Linked DNA regions of Homo sapiens: region 2 is linked to region 1. The links come from fine-mapping of genetic effects on gene expression. A gene starts in region 1. The other region holds a variant in brackets. All regions are shown on one strand. Distances are from middle to middle.

Evidence for each region. PIP is the estimated chance that this variant, and not a neighbour inherited with it, causes the effect.
Region 2: its variant is fine-mapped to the expression of ZNF843 in thyroid (GTEx, PIP 0.93).

Annotation. Positions count from the first base shown.
Region 1 is chr16:31,436,630-31,446,283 of GRCh38, reverse strand. ZNF843 (zinc finger protein 843) reads left to right here and starts at 3,495. Exons shown (of 2, transcript NM_001136509.3): 1 at 3,495-3,648; 2 at 9,100-9,654. The coding sequence starts at 9,435. RefSeq lists silencers at 3,479-3,688, 9,551-9,654 and an enhancer at 3,073-3,868.
Region 2 is chr16:31,385,215-31,394,868 of GRCh38, reverse strand. It overlaps ITGAD (integrin subunit alpha D), which reads right to left and starts at 1,534. Exons shown (of 30, transcript NM_005353.3): 1 at 1,478-1,534; 2 at 528-633. The coding sequence starts at 1,508. The variant G/A (reference allele first, on the strand shown) is at 4,148.

The DNA of each region.
Region 1 (9,654 bases):
CACATGTTGGGGGAATGGCCTGGTGGGAGGTGACTGAATCATGGGGGCGGACTTCCCCCTTGCTATTCTCGTGATCGAATTCTCAGGAGATCTGGTTGTTTGATAAGTGTGTGGCTCTTCCTCTTTGCTCTCCCTTTCTCTTCTGCTGCCATGTAAGATGTGCCTTGCTTCCCCTTCACCTTCTGCCATTATTGTAAGTTTCCTGAGGCCTCCCCAGCCATGTGAGTCAATTAAACTTTTTTTTTTTTTTTTTGAGACCGAGTTTCAATCTGTCACCGAAGCTGGAGTGCAGTGGCGCTGTCTCAGCTCACTGCAACCTCTGCCTCCCAGGTTCAAACAATTATCCTGCCTCAGCCTCCTGAATAGCTGGGATTACAGGTGCCTGCCACCATAGCCAGCTAAATTTTTTGTAGAGACAGGGTTTTACCGTTGGCCAGGCTGGTCTCAAACTCCGTACCTCAAGTGATCTGCCCACCTTGCCTCCCAAAGTGCTGGGACTACAGGCGTGAGCCACTGCGCCTGGCCTCTTTTTTTTTTTCTTTCTTTTTTTTTTTTTTAAATAAATTACCCAGTCTCAGGTAGTTCCTTACAGCAGTGTGAAAACAGACTAATACAAAGCACTTTCACCTTCTGCCATGGATGACCCTTGATGCTGGTGCCATGCTGTTGGACCTCTAAGACTGCAGAACTGTGAGCCAAATAAATCTCCTTTCTTTATAAATTACCCAATCTGTGGCATGGTTATAGCAGCAGAAAATAGACTACACCAGAATATAGAATATATCAAGAGTATAGAAACACAACTGACTTCTGTGTATTGATTTTGTTGTTACAGCTTTGCAGAATTTGTTTATTAGCTCTAACAAAGTTTTTTTCATAGATTCTTTAGGATTTTCTATAAAATCACCTCATCTATAAATGGAGATAGTTTTACTTCTTCCTTTCTGATTTGCTTGCTTTTTATTTTTCCTTGCCTCATGGCAAGAGCTTCCAGGCAAGAACTGGTGAGAGCTTCCAGTACAAGGCTGAATAGATGTGGCAAAAGTGGGCATCCCTTTCTTGTTTCTGATCTTAGAGGAAAAGCTTTTATTCTCTCACCATTGAGTATGATGTTGGCAGTGGGTTTTTTCATAGATGCCCTTTATCACGTTAATTGAGTTTCCTTCTATTCCTAGTTTGCTGAGTATTTTTATGATGAAGGGTGCTGAATTTTGTCAAATGCTGTTTTTACACCAATTGAAATAATAATGTTTTCCTTTATTGTATTGATGTAGTGTATTAATTTATTTTCATAAGTTAAGCTAACCGTACATTCCTGGGATAAATCCCACCTGGTTATCCTTTTTATATATTTCTGAATTTTATTTGCCGGTATTTTCTTGAGGATTTTTATGTCTATATTCATAAGAGATATTAGTCTCTAGTTTTCTTGTGATGTCTTTGTCTGATTTTGATAGTAGGGTAATACTGGCCTCAGAATAAGTTGGGAGGTTTTCACTGTCATGACTTTTATAACCTAATTATAAGTAATTCTTGCCAGGTACGGTGGCTCATGCATGTAATCCCAGCACTTTGGGAGGCTGAGGTGGGTGGATCACCTAAGGTCAGGAGTTCGAGACCAGCCTGGCCAACATGGCAAAACCCCATCTCTATTAAAAATACAAAATTTAGCCAGGTGTGGTGGCCGTGTGTGTAATCCCAGCTACTTGGGAGGCTGAGGCACGAGAATCACTTGAACCCAGGAGGCAGAGGTTGCAGTGAGCCGAGATCGTGCCACTGCACTCCAGCCTGGGTGATAGAGCAAGACTCTGTCAAAAAAAGAAAGAAAGAGAGAGGAAAGAAAGAAAGAGAATGAGAGAAAGAGAGAAAGAAAGAAACTCCTATAGTATTCCACAGGTCACATAGACCAACCCTGGTGCATTGTGGGAAGGGACTAAAAAGGGTGTGAACACCAGGAGTAGGATCACTGGGAACTATCTCAGCAGATGGCTGCCATAGCCACCAACTGACTAACATTCACTGAACACTCACCATGTGCCAGACATTGTGCTAAGCTCTTCACTTGGCTTATCTCCTTGAATCTTCCCAGCAACCTTATGAGGTAAGTAGGTGCTGTTATTATTGCCATGTTACAGATGAAGAAATTGAGATACAGAGATTAGATTCACCAAACTGCCCAAACTCCCACAGCTATTAACTGGTGGAACCAGGAATCAAACTCAGTAGGGTGTGCATATAATATACTTTGGGTGGTGGTGGTTGTTGTTGTTGTTGTTGTTGTTGTTGTTGTTGTTGTTGTTTTGAGACAGGGTTTCACTCTTTCACCCAGGCTGGAGTGCAGTGGCATGATCTGCAACCTCTGCAACACTGCAACCTCTGCCTCCTGGGTTCAAGCGATTCTCCTGCCTCAGTCTCCTAAGTAGCTGGGATTACAGGTGTGCACCACCATACCCGGCTAATTTTTGTATTTTTAGTAGAATAATTTTTGTATTTTTAGTTTCACCATGTTGGCCAGGCTGGTCTCGAACTCCTGACCTCAACTGATCCACTACCCTTGCCCTCCCAAAGTGCTGGGATTACAGGCGTGAGCCACCGCGTCTAGCTTTTTTTTTTTTTTTTTTTTTTTTTAAGAGACATGGTCTTGCTCTGTTGCCCAGGCTGGAGTGCAGAGGTGTCACCATAGCTCACTGCACCTTCAACCTCCTGGGCTCAAGTGATCCTCCCACTTAAGCATCCTGAGTAGCTGGGACCACAGGCGCCCACCACCAAGTCCGGCTAAATTTTAATTTTTTTTTGTAGAGATGGGGGTCTCGCTTTGTTGCCCAGGCTGATCCCTAACTCCTGGCCTCAAGCAGTCCTCCCGCCTTGGCCTCCCAAAGTGTTGGGATTACAGGCGTGAGCCACTGCGCTCAGTCTGTGTATCCTGATTACTAAATTTTGGGGTGTCTCCTTAAATTCTGTGCCAGAAGCCAGTGCCTCACTCGCCCTACCCTAATTCCACCCATCCCGGTGACCCAATGTCCCCGTTCAACCTGCACCATGGCGCTTCCCAGCCCCGCTCCTAGCGCCTCCTCCCGCCCCTAGGGGTCGCCGTCGCGCCGTCATTCCCTTCCTTCGATGCCCGGGCGAGACGCGCAAAAGGTGGGAGGAGGAGAGGCCCGCGTGTGTGCATGCGCATGGCGCGGACTCCCTCATCCTGGTCAGGGAGTGGAGGGGTTGGGTCTCAGGCAGCTGTTAGCGGAGTCCTCAGTGTCTCGGTCGTTTCTCCCTGTCTTGGTGAGGGCCAGGGGACAGGTCGGGGCAGTATTTGGGGGAAGCGAGAGGCAAGCAGGGCGGGCTGGATACGGAGCGCCCTATGACTGAGGTTAGGGAGGACGCCCGAGACCCCCGGCATCCTAGTCCTGGGCCGTGGGCTCCGGACGCCGGGCCAGGACGCCTCCAGCTCCCAGGGTCCCTTGCGGGGACCATGTTTCCCCACAGGCCCCGCGGCTGCCGGGTCCTCGCCACGTCCCCTTCCCGGAGCTACGCGCCCGGCTGGGTTCCGATCCGCCGTGTCTCTCGGGGGCGGCTCGCGGGGCAGGGGCGCTCCCGGCTCGGCCGCACGCCCAAGTGTCATGCGGGAGGTACGCGGGCACGGGACCTCACCGGGTAAGAGCGAGCGAAGGGGCCGGGCGCGGTGGCTCACGCCCGTAATCCCAGCACTTTGGGAGGCCGAGGCGGGCGGATCACGAGGTCAGGAGTTCGAGACCAGCGTGGCCAATATAGTGAAATCCCTTCTCTACTAAAAATGCAAAAATTAGCCGGGCGTGGTGGCGGACGCCTGTGGTCCCAGCTACTCGGGAGGCTGAGGCAGGAGAATCGCTTGAACCCGGGAGGCAGGGGTTGCAATGAGCCGAGATCTCGCCACTGCACTCCAGCCTGGGGAACACAGCGAGACTCCGTCTCAAAAATAAATAAATAAATAAATAAATAAATAAATAAAATCGAGCGAAGGGCCGCAGCCCGGGCCCACCGCCTCCACCTGAACACGCGCCTCCGCCGAGCCCCTCGACCCCGCGCCAGGCGAGGCTTGGTGGGGCGTTCCGTGGACCCCACACGCACGTCGGTGTTATCAGGAGGGAAGGGGCGGGCCAACACCTCCACCGCCTTTGCGGCCGGCCGTCCACCCTCCATTCTCCTGCTGGAGCCGTTTCCCAGCGATTCTCCGGCAGTGCTGGCTGCAGCACACCCGGCCCGCCTTAAAATCTCAGCCGCCTCCCCCGTCCCGGAGTCCTCCCCTGGGTTCTGTCCTTAACTGCATCACCGACCCCACATACACACAGGCATGAACACCCATCTTTTCACACGCCCCGTTTGCTTTCTCAGAACTTAGCAGATACTCTTAAGCTGAGAGGGTTTGGTGAGGTTAAAATTTATCTTGTGACATTGAGTCCAGCAGTTCAGAGCCTTGAACACCTCAGTACATGGCCTTGACCTTAGTTTATTACTTCTGTATTCTGCCGGGCGCTGCGGCTCACGTCTGTAATCCCAGCACTTCGGGAAGCCAAGGCGGGAGGATCGCTTGAGCCCAAGAGTTGGAGAGTAGCGTAGGCAACAATGAGATCCTGTCTACACTAATTATTTAAAAAAAAAAAATTAGCCAGGTGTGGTGGTGCACACCTGTGATCCCAGCTACTCAGGAGGCTGAGGGAGGACCGCTTGAGCCCAGGAGGTCGAGGCTGCAGTGAGCCATGATGGTGCCACTGCACTCCAGCCTGGATGATAGAGGGAGAGCCTGTCTCTAATACTAATAATAATCAATAATAATACTGTACGGTGTGCCCATTACTCAGGAGGCACTGTAGTAGAAGGATAAGCTGTGGCGGTAACTGAGGATAAACAGATAACCATTTAGCTAAAAAGGTTCTTAACCTTGGCTGTATGTTGTTACTCCTGGGTGCAGCACAGGCAAAATAATTTTGAAAGCTCCCAGGTAATCCTAATGTGCAGCTAGCACTGAGAACCACTGCTTTAACCCCTGAGGAAGGTAGGTAGGGCCTAGGGTGGCCCGAAGCACTGGGCCGGGCACCTTCAGTAGGGAGCAATCTCAACCCTTTATCCCTGTGAGTTACTCATATTGTAACATTTTCTGTGGGTTCCATGCTGTGAAAACAGTAAGCACTGCCCTACAGTAACAAGCATGCTTGACAGCCCTTGTGTCAGATCATCCATTGGAAGAGAGGGGAATCAAATCACAAAAGGCCAACTGGAAAACACACTCATCTAGGGAAGAGATTAGGAAAGCCTGGGCAAGGCTGATGACAGGGAATGTAAGAGAGGAGTTATAGTCACAGGAAGAATGTTGAGTGATAGTAGAAAACTAGATGGAAATTTCTGGCAGCCTGTGGTACTTTTAATTGGCACAAGGACTGATTTCGGTAACAGGTCCCCCTGACTCCCAAAGGAGAGCTGCGGGAATTGCTGTGGTCTTCCTAGGGCCCTCAAGACCATGAATGGGCTGGAGTCTGGACCAGTCTCAGGCACTAGCAAATTGGACAGTAGCTCATTCATACTGGTATAAGAGCTGCTGCTTTATCGAGGCCAGAGGCCCTTTCTTATATGGGGCAGCAGCTGCGCTCCTGGGAATGATTCCTACATAAAAGATTCCACATGGAAAAAAAATAAGCTCTGTGCATTCCATGAAGATGCTCATTACAGCATTATCTCTACTAATGATCTATTCCAATAATAAAGGAAATGAATACAATATAATATGGTATTTCAAACAAAGCCATTAAAATAGATCATTATGAAAGAATGTGAATGAATGAGAAATGTTCATAAGTTAAAAAAATGCTTATTTTTCAGAGAGCAAAATTAGACTCGTCTGTTGCTTGGAATGGCTTCCTCTTGCTCTGTGTCTAAACTATGATTATGGAGTAGTTAAAATGCATATGCATGTTGGCAAAGCCTGAATAAAATATGCAAACGTGAAAATATTTTTTGTAGAGGAGATGAAATTATGGAGGAAGGAGTGTGTCTATTTCAAAATTGTCCTAATGAGAAGTATTGTGGCATAGTAGTTCAGAGGAAGCTCCCTGGAGCCAAAAATTTTTTTACCGTATATATGGCTTTTCTAAATTACTTAAACTTTCTATGCCTCAGTTTCTTCATCTATAAAATGGGGTAATCGTTAGTATCTTGGAGAGTTGTTGTGAGGTCTAACCAATATGTGGAAACTCTTAGAATAGTACCTGGCATGTAGTAAGTACACTGTAAGTCCTGGCTATTTCAACTCCGTATTATTTATAGCTTAATAAAATATTTTAAAGATAGTTGGCCAGTCAGCACTGATACTCCTGTCTACCTGTGTTACATCTCAGAAGAGGCTTAGCCTATCTGTGCTGACACTTACTGAAGTATAAGTTATATATAAAACACACCCACTTTAAGTGTACAGGTTGCTGGTTTTTGGTGAATGTGTACACGGGCATAACCATCATCACATTCAGGGTGCAGAACTTTGCCGTCACCCTCTCATGCCCCGTGCAGTCAGCTGCTCTCTCCCTGACCCAGCCCCAGAGAACCACTGGTCTACTTTCTGCCCCTATGAGTAAGTTTTGCTTTTTGTAGAAATGGAATTTCACAGAAATTGAATCATATAGTATGTATTCTCTTGTGTCTGGCTTCTCTGGTTTAACATAATTTTGAGATTCATCCATTGCTTGCAGGTAACAGCAGTTCCTCTTTGTTGCTAGTATTCTGTTACATGGGTAAACCACACTTTATTCTTCCACCCATTGATGGACATTTGGATGTTTCTATCTTATGCCTATTATGAATAAAGCTGATATGCACATTTGTGAAAAAGTCTTTGTGTGGACATATGTTTTTATTTTCCTTGAGTAAATCCTAAGAGTAGAATTATTGAGTCATGTGGTAAGTGTACATTTAATTTACTGTTAACCAAAACTGGTTTCCAAAATGCCCAGGCCATTTTATATTTCCCCAGCAATGTGTGAGACTCCATATCCTCAGGCAACAGTTAGCACCTTCAGTCTGCTCGATTTTAGTGGGTGCATAAGGGCACTCCTTGTGGTTTTAATTTGCATTTCTCGGGTGACTGATGATAGCACATCACTTTTTTTGTATCATTATACTTTTAAGTTCTAGGGTACATGTGCACAACGTGCAGGTTTGTTACATATGTATACATGTGCCATGTTGGTGTGCTGCACCCATTAACTCGTCATTTACATTAGGTATATCTGCTAATGCTATCCCTCCCCCCTCCCCCCACCCCACAACAGGCCCCGGTGTGTGATGTCCCCCTTCCTGTGTCCATGTGTTCTCATTGTTCAATTCCCACCTATGAGTGGGAACATGCGGTGTTTATTTTTTTGTCCTTGGGATAGTTTGCTGAGAATGAGCACATCACTTTTAAATGGTAGCTCACTTCTAGGGAAGGAAGGAGAGCGATGAGTCAAAAGAAGTTCCACTGTTTTTGAGCTTAGGTGTCCAAGAGAATAAAACTGGTGCCACCAACAAAAGTGAAATTAGGAGTCAGTGATTTTTTGGCATAGGGGTATTAAATTTGAAGTGATGGCAGGATGTTAAGGGGGAAATAACTGGGTGGCAGCATGCTTTGCAGGCTTGGAGCTCAGTGGGAGGTCAGGTCCTGAGATAAGAGCCAAGTATCCGCTGAGAGGTGAAGCACAAACGGGGAGAGAGAGAGAGATGAGACCCAAGGATCAAGCCAGGGCTCAGAGTGGCCAGAAGCATCTGTTCCCCAGTCCCCATTTCCAAGTAATGGAAAATCCAGACTGACAGGCCTAATAGGCCTAAAAATAGATAAAATTAGCCCACTTATATATGAGCCACTGGAATACTTTCTAGTCCTATTGCAAACTCTACTCTTGGCTACTTTGATTGTTAAAATTGTAAATTAAAAGTTATCTATACCCTTTTTAAAAAAGAGTTTCAATATGGTTTGTGACAATCAGTTAATTATCTTTGTGGCCTGAGGGGCCCCCTTCTTTTAATCACCTTAACCAATAAAGCAATAATGTCTTTCTGAAGTTGATTCTTTTTGATGGTTTGTGTTTGGATGTTCAAGGTTAATGAGGAAATGATCCTTACCACGCTTTTGTAATTTTAATACAGACAGGGTCTTGCTTTGTTGCCCAGGTTAGTCTCCTGGGCTCAAGGATCCTCTGGCCTCAGCCTCCCAAAGTGCTAGGATTATAGGCATGAGCCACTGCGCCCAGCCTCTTGCTACACTTTCATTCAGGATAAAGATGGTAATATCCAAGACTACTGAAAGTCTTATAACCCCAATCCAAATTTTAAAATAAATCTTACTATTAAGAAGCATTGATTGGCCATGTGCAGTGGCTCACACCTGTAATCCCAGCACTTTGGGAGGCTAAGGTGGGTGGATCATGAGGTCAGGAGTTTGAGACCAGCCTGACCAACATGGTGAAATCCTGTCTCTACTAAAATACAAAAAAAAATTAGCCGGCAATGGTGGCAGGCGCCTGTAATCCCAGCTACTCGGGAGGCTGAGGCAGGAGAATCGCTTGAACCCGGGTGGCAGAGGTTGCAGTGAGCCGACATAGCTAGCACCACTGCACTCCAGCCTGGGTGACAGAGCAAGACTCCCTCTCAAAAAAAAAAAAAAAAAAACATTGATTATAGGAGGCCGGGCATGGTAGCTCATGCTTGCAATCCCAGCACTTTGGGTGGCCCAGGTGGGCCAACCGCTTGAGCCCAGGAGTTTGAGAGCAGCTTGGGCAACATGATAAAAACCAGCTTCTACCAAAAAAAAAAAAAAAAATGCTGGGCCTAGTGGTGTGCAACTACAGTCCCAGCTACTTGAGAGACTGAAGCGGGAGGATCACTTGAGCCAGAGAGGCAAAGGTTGCAGTGATCAGAGATCGTACTACTGCATTCCAGCCTGGGCAACAGAAATAGACCCTGTCTTAAAAAAAAAAAAAAAAAAAAAAAAGAAGGAAAGAAAAAGTAAAATAGTAATAAAGAAGCATTGATTACAGGATTCTGAAAGCAAAGTCTCCTTTGCAGTTTGTAGTAAAATTTTTCTGTGGTTTTCTCTCCCTCTAGAGAGAATGATGGCTCTGGGATCTGAAATCTTTCCTTCCGCAGGAACTGGACACGGCAGTGAGGACCAGCGTATCCAAGAGGATGGACTTAGTGATGGGGAACACCCAGGGACATGCCCGAGAGCCTCAAGAAACACCTTCAGATGACATTGCCCAGCGTCTTACATTAGAGAACTCTCCAGACAGCCCCCGAGGCCTGGGGCCGGGTGCTGCTCCCAGACTGTGAGCTCGTGGCCACGGGAAGCCTGAGTGCGGCAGAGGCCCCACAGCTGCGCCAAGTGCGGCAAAGCCTCCCGTACAGTTACTCCCTGAGCGGTCATCTCCGAAGCCCTGCTCATGAGAAGCCTCCCCTTTGCCCTGACTGTGGAAAGCGTTTCAGCCAGAGCTCCTACCTGCTGCAGCACCGGCAGATTCACCCAGGGCCGTCAGCCCTGCAAGTGCAAGGCCTGCGGGAGGGGTTTTACTCAGAGCGCATCCCTCCTCCAGCACTGGCGGGTCCACAGCGACTGGCGAGAGACCTTGTCGCTGTCCCCAGTGCGGCAAGACCTGCTGTGGC
Region 2 (9,654 bases), 51 kb after region 1:
TCTCTGTAAAAAGTAAAACAAAACAAAACAAAAAACAGGCATGATGGCATGCACCTGTGGTCCCAGCTATTCAGGAGGCTGAGGTGAGAGGATCACTTGTGCCCGAGAGTTTGAGGCTGCAGTAAGCTGTGATTGCACCACTGCACTCCAGCCTGGGTAACAGAGCTGGAGTAAAAATAAAAATAAAAATAATCAGGAATTTCAAGAGGTCAAGGGCAGAACATTAAACTCCAAAGTTAATGAGTGTGGGCCCTGTGTGACCATACTGGCCCCAAGAAGTGGGCCCTGCCTGGGAGGCAGGTTCAAGGCTTCCCTCCCGAGGTAAGGTAGGGTCTTGTCTAGAGTTTTGTGGCCTTTCCTGGGATTGAGAATAATAGGTGCTGATGTCAGGGCCTCCAAGGAGCCAAGGGAAGACTTCTCACCCCTGCTGGCCTTCCTCCAGGACACCTCCCTGGGGTAACCCACGTGTACCCATCCACAGGACTTGATGTAGTGGAGGTTGGGGAAGGAGGGTGAGTGGGGCCTACCGAGATCCACCGAACTGCACCACGCTCTGCCCAAAGCCGCCTGCATCCTCCTGGAAGATCGTAGGCTCCTCCACATCCAGGTTGAATCCATGATAAGAAGCCAGGACTGAGGAATATTTGGTGGGCGGGGAGGCTGGGAGTTAAAGAAGCCCCAATCCCTAGGACCTCCCAGCCTCTTTTTCTTTTTTTTCTTTTTTTTTTTTTTTTTTTTGAGATGGAGTCTCGCTCTGTTGCTGAGGCTGGAGTGCAACGGCACGATCTCAGCTCACTGCAACTTCCGTCTCCTGGGTTCAAGCGATTCTCTTGCCTCAGCTTCCCAAGTAGCTGGGATTACAAGTGCACGCCACCATGCCCGGCTAATTTTTATATTTTTGGTAAAGATGGGGTTTCACCATGTTGGCCAGGCTGGTCACAAACTCCTGACCTCAGGGGATACGCCCATCTCGGCCTCCCAAAGTGCTGGGATTATAAGCATGAGCCACCGCACCCAGCCAAGCCTGATTTTTGATGGCACGTGAATGTGACTCTGATGCAGTTTTCAGCAGGGGGCCTCTTCCCTACGTGCAGTCAGGACTTGGGGGAAACAGGCCCAGGGAGGTGATGTCCAACCTTTCCCCCTCCCTGGTGGCTTCTGTGGCCTTCCACTCCCGGGGGAGGCTGGGGAGACCTCTGTCACCCACACCAGGGACTCCATGAGTGGGAGCAGGGAAGCCTGGGACAACATAGCCAGCTGGAGAGGTAGCTTAGTCGCCACCTGAGCACAGCCCCTGAGCCCCTCTTCATTCAGGTCACACTCTACTGACTCCGGGCCACTCGCACATGAAGCACTCCCCTGCCTCAGCTCCTCATAAGAGTGGTTGGAGCCGACCACCAGCCCCCAGCCTGCCCTCCCAGATGGAGTCCCCTCAGAACTCCTCCAAGCTTCTCCCCAGCACCCTGGCCCCACTTACCACTCAGAAGAAGCACAGTGCCGAAGGTCATCCCTGAGCAGCGCGTTGAGGGGAAGTGGAAGGTTGGGGACAGAGCACAGAAGGTGCTCACCCTCCCAGGGGGTAGTTAAAATAATGATTCAGGGCCTCCACACAGCAGGAAGAGGGGCACAGTGGGTAGGAGGGGCGTGGTTAATTATGGAACAGAAGTGGGGGCAGGGGCCAACAACACCCTGGGGAAAAACCCTCATTCTGTCCCCCTCCACAACCTGCAGGGACCTGGCTTCCTTCTCCCAGAAGACCACCCTCCCCCAGGCCTCAGGAGCCAGTTGGTACCCAGGGAGCCCCGTAGCTCTCTGAGGTCCCACAGGAGTGGAAGGACAGGAAGCAGAATGGCTGCAGAGGTCTTGGCATGTGGATGTGAGCCGGCAGAGAGGCAGGGAGAAGGGGAGCTAGGCCAGGGTGTGGTTTCAAAAAGCAGAGCCCCTCCAGAGGAGAATGGACACCCAAAATAATAAAGTCATGCCATGGGCTACTACTCAGCAAGAAATAAGATCAAACTACAGATCAGATGCCATGGCTCATGCCTGTGGTCCCAGAGCTTGGCAGGTGGATTGCTTGAGGCCAACAGTTCGAGACCAGCCTAGGCAACATAGCCAGACCCTGTCTTTACAATAAATAACAAAGAACAAACTGCAGTTCTGTACAACAATACAGGTTAACTCAATTTTATCTTAAGTGAAAGAAACCAGACACCAGAATGCCTAATGTCTGGTTCCTTTCATATACAAGAGAATGGGCAAAATTCATCTACGAAGATAGAAATCAGAAGAGTGGTTGTCTATGGTGGGGCAGAGAGGAAACTTTTTTTTTTTTTGACAAGTTTTGCTATGTCGCCCATGCTGGAATGCAGTGGCATGATCAGGGCTCACTGCAGCCTCAAATTCCCAGACTCAAGCAATTCTCCCACCTCAGCCTCCCAGTCACTGGGATTACTGATGCACACCACCATGCCCAGCTAATTTTTTTGTTTTTTGTAGAGACGAGATCGCACTATGTTGCCCATGCTGGTCTCGAGCTCCTGGACTCAAGCAATCCTCCCACCTCCTCCTCCCAAAGTACTGGGATTACAGGCGTGAGCCACCACATCCAGCCAGGAACCTTTAGCATGTGTTAAATTTAGCATTTAACACAATATTTTAATATTTATTACATGGGGTTGGGGAGAAGATAAATGAGTGGTTGTTATTTATTTTCTGTGATTTTTCTGTATGTTTGAAATATTCCATGATTAAACATAAAAGTTCCTTTAAAATGTGAAAAAGAAAAAGGTCTATATATAAAAGGCTAGGAATAGGCCAGGCGCAGTGGCTCACACCTATAATCCCAGCACTTTGAGAGGCTGAGGTGGATGGATCACCTGAGGTCAGGAGTTTGAGACCAGCTCTGGCCAATATGGTGAAACCCCGTCTCTACTAAAAATACAAAAATTAGCTGGGCATGGTGGTGCGCACCTGTAATCCCAGCTACTCAGGAGGCTGAGGCAGGAGAATCGCTTGAACCCAGGAGGTAGAGTTTGCAGTGAGTCAAGATTGCGCCACTGCACTCCAGCCTGGGCGACAGAGCAAGACTGTCTCAATAAATAAAAAATAAAAAATAAATAAAAAGCTTAGGAATATACTTTGAAGGTTAAAATATAACAAGATCCCTACCTATAACATAAATTATTTTGTATATATATGTGACAATTATTTAAAACATTTGGCTGGGCACAGTGGCTTATGTCTGTAATTCCAGCACTTTGGGAGGCTGAGGCAGGTGTATAGCTTGAGGTCAGGAGTTCGGGACCAGCCTGGCCAACATGGTGAAACCCCATCTCTACTAAAAATACAAAGATTAGCCAGGCATGGTGGTGCACGCCTGTAATCCCAGCTACTCAGGAAGCTGAGGCAGGAGAATCGCTTAAACCCAGGAGGCAGAGGTTGCAGTGAGTCAAGATCACACCACTGCATTCCAGCGTGGGCAACAGAGCAAGACTCTGTCTCAAAAACAAAACAAAATGAAACAAACAAAACATTTAAAATGTAATTAAACATCAAGTGCAAATAATATGAAATAGTTTTCTATACAAAAATTTTACATCAATTTACTTGAGAGCTGACATTTAATGGACAGAAGAAATTAATTGTGATGCATTAACGATGCCCTTGCAGGAAACCGAGCCGAGGGCTGTGATTGCTAACTTCGAGGCTGACTTATCTACTGCCTTACAAAGACTGCCCAGGCAAAGTGGAGCGGCAGCCTTCTCCCTCTTGTGCTGAAAGGTTTGTGGCTGGCCGCACCCTGTCATCAGTTCTGTGGATCTGTGAACTTCTCCCTGTATTTGGAACCACAAAATAATTTGTTGGTGATTCTTCATAATTCAGAAATTTAAAGAGCTCTTCATTTTCTCCATCTTCACCACACCTCATCTTTTACACATTTCTATATCCCCTTTAATTTTGGACTTCCTTCTGTAAGTAGTGCTTGAAACTCACGATTTGCTGATATCAGCAACTATAAAATTCTCCAACTTTCCCTAACTCGTATTATCGCTTGTCTCAGCAAAATTTTTTGTTTTCCACTCATGTTTGGAGAGCAATGATAAGGGCAAAATGCAGTAAGGTAGTCAAATGCTCACAATCACTGCAC[G/A]CTGCCAGGAAATCATCTTTCTCCCAGGCCTGGAGCTGGAGCTGCCAAGGCTCAGAGTCCACAGCAGCTGAAGGTGATGCCCCCAAATTCAGGGCATCCTCTGGGGACTTGATGGCGGCTCCACCCTTAAAGGAACCACCAGCTCTCAGTAAATTTTTAATTAATTAATCAATTAATTTTTATTTTGAGATGGAGTCCTGCTCTGTCGCCCAGGCTGGAGTGCAGTGGTGCAATCTCAGCTCATTGCAACCTCTGCCTCCCAGGTTCAAGTGATTCTCCTGTCTGAGCCTCCCGAGTAGCTGGGATTACAGGCACACACCACCACACCTGACTAATTTTTGTATTTTTAGTAGAGACGGGGTTTTGCCATATTGGCCAGGCTGGTCTCGAACTCCTGACCATAGGTGATCCACCTGCCTTGACTTCCCAAAGTACTGGATTACAGCAGTGAGCCACCGTGCCCGTCTTCTCTCAGTAAGTTTTAAAAAGTTACACTTAGATAAATAAGAAAACAAGAATTTAATAATTGTTTTCAAATCAATGTGAAGGAGAATATTTTTGCAGCCTTTCTCCAGAATGAGCTGTGTCTGCCTGGAGAGCATAACTCCAGGTCCCCATGCCTTAGAGGCCACAGCCAGGATTTGGTTTTGTTTCTCCTGGTCTTCCCCTCCTCCCAGGAAATTTGGCTTTATTCTTCACATGCATTCATAATTCTCTCTCTCCAAATCACTTTTTCCCCCGCATGAGAAAAATACATCCATAGTAATGTGTTCAAATTGCTGGCTTCCAATTCTCCCCTTTTCCATTTGGGGTATGGATTAGATGCCCTGGAATATTTGCATTGAATTTTACCTATTCATCTACTTTGATCATCATAATGATCGCTGAGGGAAGCCAGGCTGTCAATAGACACATCTAAAATACAAAGTTGATGAGAAGGATAGAGTTTGCAAATGAAAGTAATTAAATGCATTAGTCAAAAGCAGAGAGAAAGAAAACCTAGCCAATAGTTCATCAGATAGAAAAGGTTTTTCTTAATAGAAGGATATCATGAAACTGACAGTTAAAGTAGAATTAATTTTTGTTGTTGTTGTTGTTAAGAGACAGAGTCTGGCACTGTTGCCCAAGCTAGAGGGCAGTGGCGTGACCATAGCTCACTGCAGCCTCGGACTCCTGGGCTCAAGTGATCCTCCCACCTCTGGTTTTTTTGTTGTTGTTGTTTGTTTGTTTGTTTGTTTTCTACAGATGGAGTCTCACTATGTTGCCCAGGTTGATCTCGAACTCTTGGGTTCAAGCAATCCTCTGGCCTCCTAAAGCACTGGAATTACAGGTATGAACCACCGCACCTGGAGCCACTGCACCTGGCCTCGAAATTAATTTTGTTTTTTTTGAGACGGAGTCTCACTCTGTCGCCCAGGCTAGAGTGCAGTGGTGCGACTCACTGCAACCTCGGCCTCCCGAGTTCAAGCAATTCTCCCACCTCAGCCTCCTGAGTAGCTGGGATTACAGGTGCACGCCACCATGTCCAGCTAATTTTTTTGTATTATTAGTCGATACAGGCTGGCCTCCAACTCCTGACGTCAGTCGATTCACCCTCCTCAGCCTCCCAAAGTGCTGGGATTACAGGCATGAGCCACCACACCCAGCCCAAAATTAATTTTTATATCATCAGGGATAATACCTTTGTCCAGAGGGCACAAATACAGATGTTGACTTCAAATTCTTGGTCCTGTCACACAATATACTACCCTGAAGATTTTCAGTAGATCCTTTTACTTATCTGTTCACACTTGTTTTGTGCATTTCTTCATCATGCTGAATTCCTGACAGCTTTGTATAAACCACGTAGTATGGAGACAGGTTTTCCCCTCTGAGCTGATAAAGTTTATAAAATATTCTGGACACACATTCACTCAGACTAGAAACGAAATCATGACTAACTTGGATTCTGCATGTATGCCTCTCTTAAGAATCAGTTTGGCCACTTTGCCCCACTCACCCATGGGTGGGCTAACAGGCACAGATGAACAGGGGCCAGCAGAAAACACCCATGACCAGCAGGCACTTTGCATCCAATCTAGTTAATGTATTTCTTTTTTTCACTCAGTTCTCCTAAAACCACCAGCCCAGGCTCCTTGCTAGAAAAATTGCCAGGTCATGAGAGTTAAATCATAAAAAGTTGGATGCTCAACTTTTCTAGCTTTATAGATGTGTTTTTTGCAGACATGCGACATTAAAGACAATTTAGCTAGGCCAGGCATGGTGGCTAATGCCTGTAATCCCAGCACTTTGGGAGGCGGAAGCAGGAGGATCACTTTAGGGCAGGAGTTCAAGACCAGCCTGGGCAACACAGTGAGACACCATCTCTAAAATTTTTTTTTTTTTTGAGACAGAGTCTCACTCTGTCACTCAGGCTGGAGTGCAGTGGTGCAATCTCGGCTCACTGCAGCCTCTGCCACCCAGGTTCCAGCAATTCTCCTGCCTGTAGCTGGAACTACAGGCACATGCCACCACACCCAGCTAATTTTTGTATTTTTAGTACAGGCGGGATTTCACCATGTTGGCAAGGCTGGTCTCAAACTCCTGACCTCAGGGGATCCACCTGCCTCAGCTTCCCAAAGTGCTAGGATTACAAGCACGAGCCACCATGCCTGGCAACGTTTTTAAAACATTAGCCAGGCATGATGGCACACACCTTTAGTCCCAGAAGCTCGGAAGGCTGAAGCAAGAGGATCGCTTGAGCCCAGAAGACCAAGGCTGCAGTGAGCTCTGATTGTGCCACTGCACTCCAGCCTGGGCAACAGAGCAAGATTCTGTCTCAAAAAAAAAAAAAAATTACCATATGATTCAGCAATTCCACTTCTGGGTGTATACCCAAGAGAATTGAAAGCATGGTCTTGAAGAGATATTTGTGCGCCCATATTCATCATTCATGAGAGGCAAAAAAAGCAACCCAAATGCCCATTGATGGGCAAATGGATAAACAAAACGTGGTATATACACACAATGGAATATTATTCAGCCTTCAAAAGGAGAGGAATTCTGACACATGCTACCACATGGGTGAACCTTGAGGACATTATGCTAAGCAAAATATGCCAGTCGCAAAAAGACAAATGCTGTATGAGTCTATTTCTATGACATGCCAAAGCAGTCAAATTCATAGAGACAGAAAGAATTGTGGTTGCCAGGAGTTAGGGAAAGGGGAGAATTGGGAGTTGTTTAATGGGTATAGGGTTTCAGTTTTACAAGATAGAAAGAGCTCTTGAGATTGGCTATACTTAAAAATGGTTAAGATGGTAAATTTTATGTTATGTATATTTTATCACAATTAATTTTTTTAAGTTCCAAGTAACTATCTTTCTCTTTGACATTAATGTGAAAAGCAATCTCCTACTTGCCTATTCCTCCATACAACACTGAAAAGATGAATAGGCAATGGCCATGATTTGATCATGTTCACCATTTTCCCTCCTTTCTTAAGCACTGAGTCAAGGGTGAGAGGCATCCCGTGAACTACCGTGTGCTCTGTGAATACTGCCCTGCAAGCATCAGCCTCTTTAGCCTGAGTGCACCATAAGTAGTTAGCCCATTCTACTGATGCAGGGCAGGCAAGCTCCAAAATTGGGGCTTAGCCCGGGAGGGTTCTTAACTTTGCTCAGGAAAGAACTGAAGAGCGAGCCTGTGGTGGAAGAAAGCAGGTTTATTGAAGCAGCAGTGGCAGCAAGGTAGCTGTTCCTTGCAGAGCAGGACAACCCATAGGCAGTGAGCCCACAGTAGCAGCCAGTGGGCTGCTGGCTAACTGTACTTATACCGACTTTTAATTACATGCAAATTAAGGGGTGGGTTATTCAGAACTATCTGGAAAAGGTGTGGGGAGTTTCCAGAACCATATGAGGTAACTTGCTGACCGTTGCTATGGTGTGTTTCCATGGCATTTGTAAACTGTCATGGCACCGGTGGGAGTGTCTTTATGCTAATAAGTGGCGAGGGTAATGAGAGTTTGCTTTCCTGGCCATCTGCTGGTTTGGGCTGTTTTTTTAGTGCATCCCATCTTGACCAGATCATGCTCTGATTAGCTGGGTTGTGACCAGAAAACAGGTCCTGCTGATCTCCTACCTCACTATCTCTCCCACCACTCATAGGATTAACATTAATTACAAATGAACAACAAAACCTCCTTTTCTGTCACTAGAGGTTTCAGCAGCTGAAAAGCTCCCACATACATGTGTTGCACAAAGATGAAAGCTGATTCAGACTTTGTATGGCAGTGACTTATTCCAAGTATGAGGTGACATGCTTGCTCTCCCACACAAGCGTTAGTCACTGCTATTCTGCTGTATACCTCTGACATACACAATGTCCAAGCTGTTCCTTCACAAAGGAATCTTGCTCACAGCATAGTCTTCAAGCATAGTATTTGCCAGACACTGTAGGTAGCCTATCCAACAGCCACCAGCGCTGCCACCTTCCTGGCTGGTGGAGCTACCCTCCTTTTTTTTTCTCTTTTTTTTTTTTTTTTTGTTGAGACAGAGTTCTACTCTGTCCCCCAGGCTGGAGTGCAGTGGCATGACCTCAGCTCACTGTAACTTCCACCTCTCAGGTTCAAGCGATTCTCCTGCCTCAGCCTCCCAAGTAGCTGGGATTACAGGCACCTGCCACCATGCCCAGCTAATTTTTGTATTTTCGGTAGAGACAGAGTTTTGCCATGTTGGTCAGGCTGGTCTCAATCTCCTGACCTCAGGTGACCTACCCACCTCTGCCTCCCAAAGTGCTGAGATTATAGGCATGAGTCACTGCACCTGGCTGGAGCTACCTCTTTTTATTAAGCCTGTGAAAAGCACATGCTCACCTTCTCAGCACTGCATGCAACCAAGGGGATGGAATTTGACCCAATCCTAGTCAGTGGGAAAGAACTAAACCGCCCCCGCAAGGACGATCAATTGGAAGATCAGAAAGAATCTGTCAATGCTGAGACTCTGCATTAAACACTAACCTGCACCTGAACCTCTTGCAGAGTAAAGGTCTTCTGTCTGCTCTTACATGCTTTTGTTTTTTTCTATTATTTGCAGCCAAAAGCAACCTTTCAATACAGGTATGAACTCTACTGCCATTTCTACAAGCTTCTTGGAAATTATGTGACTTGTACCTACTTTTGCTACTTTAAAAAGCACCTTTGATTTATGTCACTGTGGTTTTGCTGTCTCCTCTGTATTCGGTGACAACACTAATCACTTTTGAATAGGAAAGCTACATGTAGCAGTTGTTCTAAGAAATCTCTATTGCTTTACCTGAGGCAGGCAGATCATGAGGTCAGGGGTTCGAGACCAGCCTGACCAACATGGTGAAACCCCCGTCTATACTAAAAATACAAAAATTAGCTGGGCGTGGTGGTGCGCGCCTGTAATCCCAGCTACTCAAGAGGCTGAGGCAGGAGAATCACTTGAACCCAGGAGGCAAAGGTTGCAGTGAGCCAAGATGATGCCACTGCACTCCAGCCTGGGCGA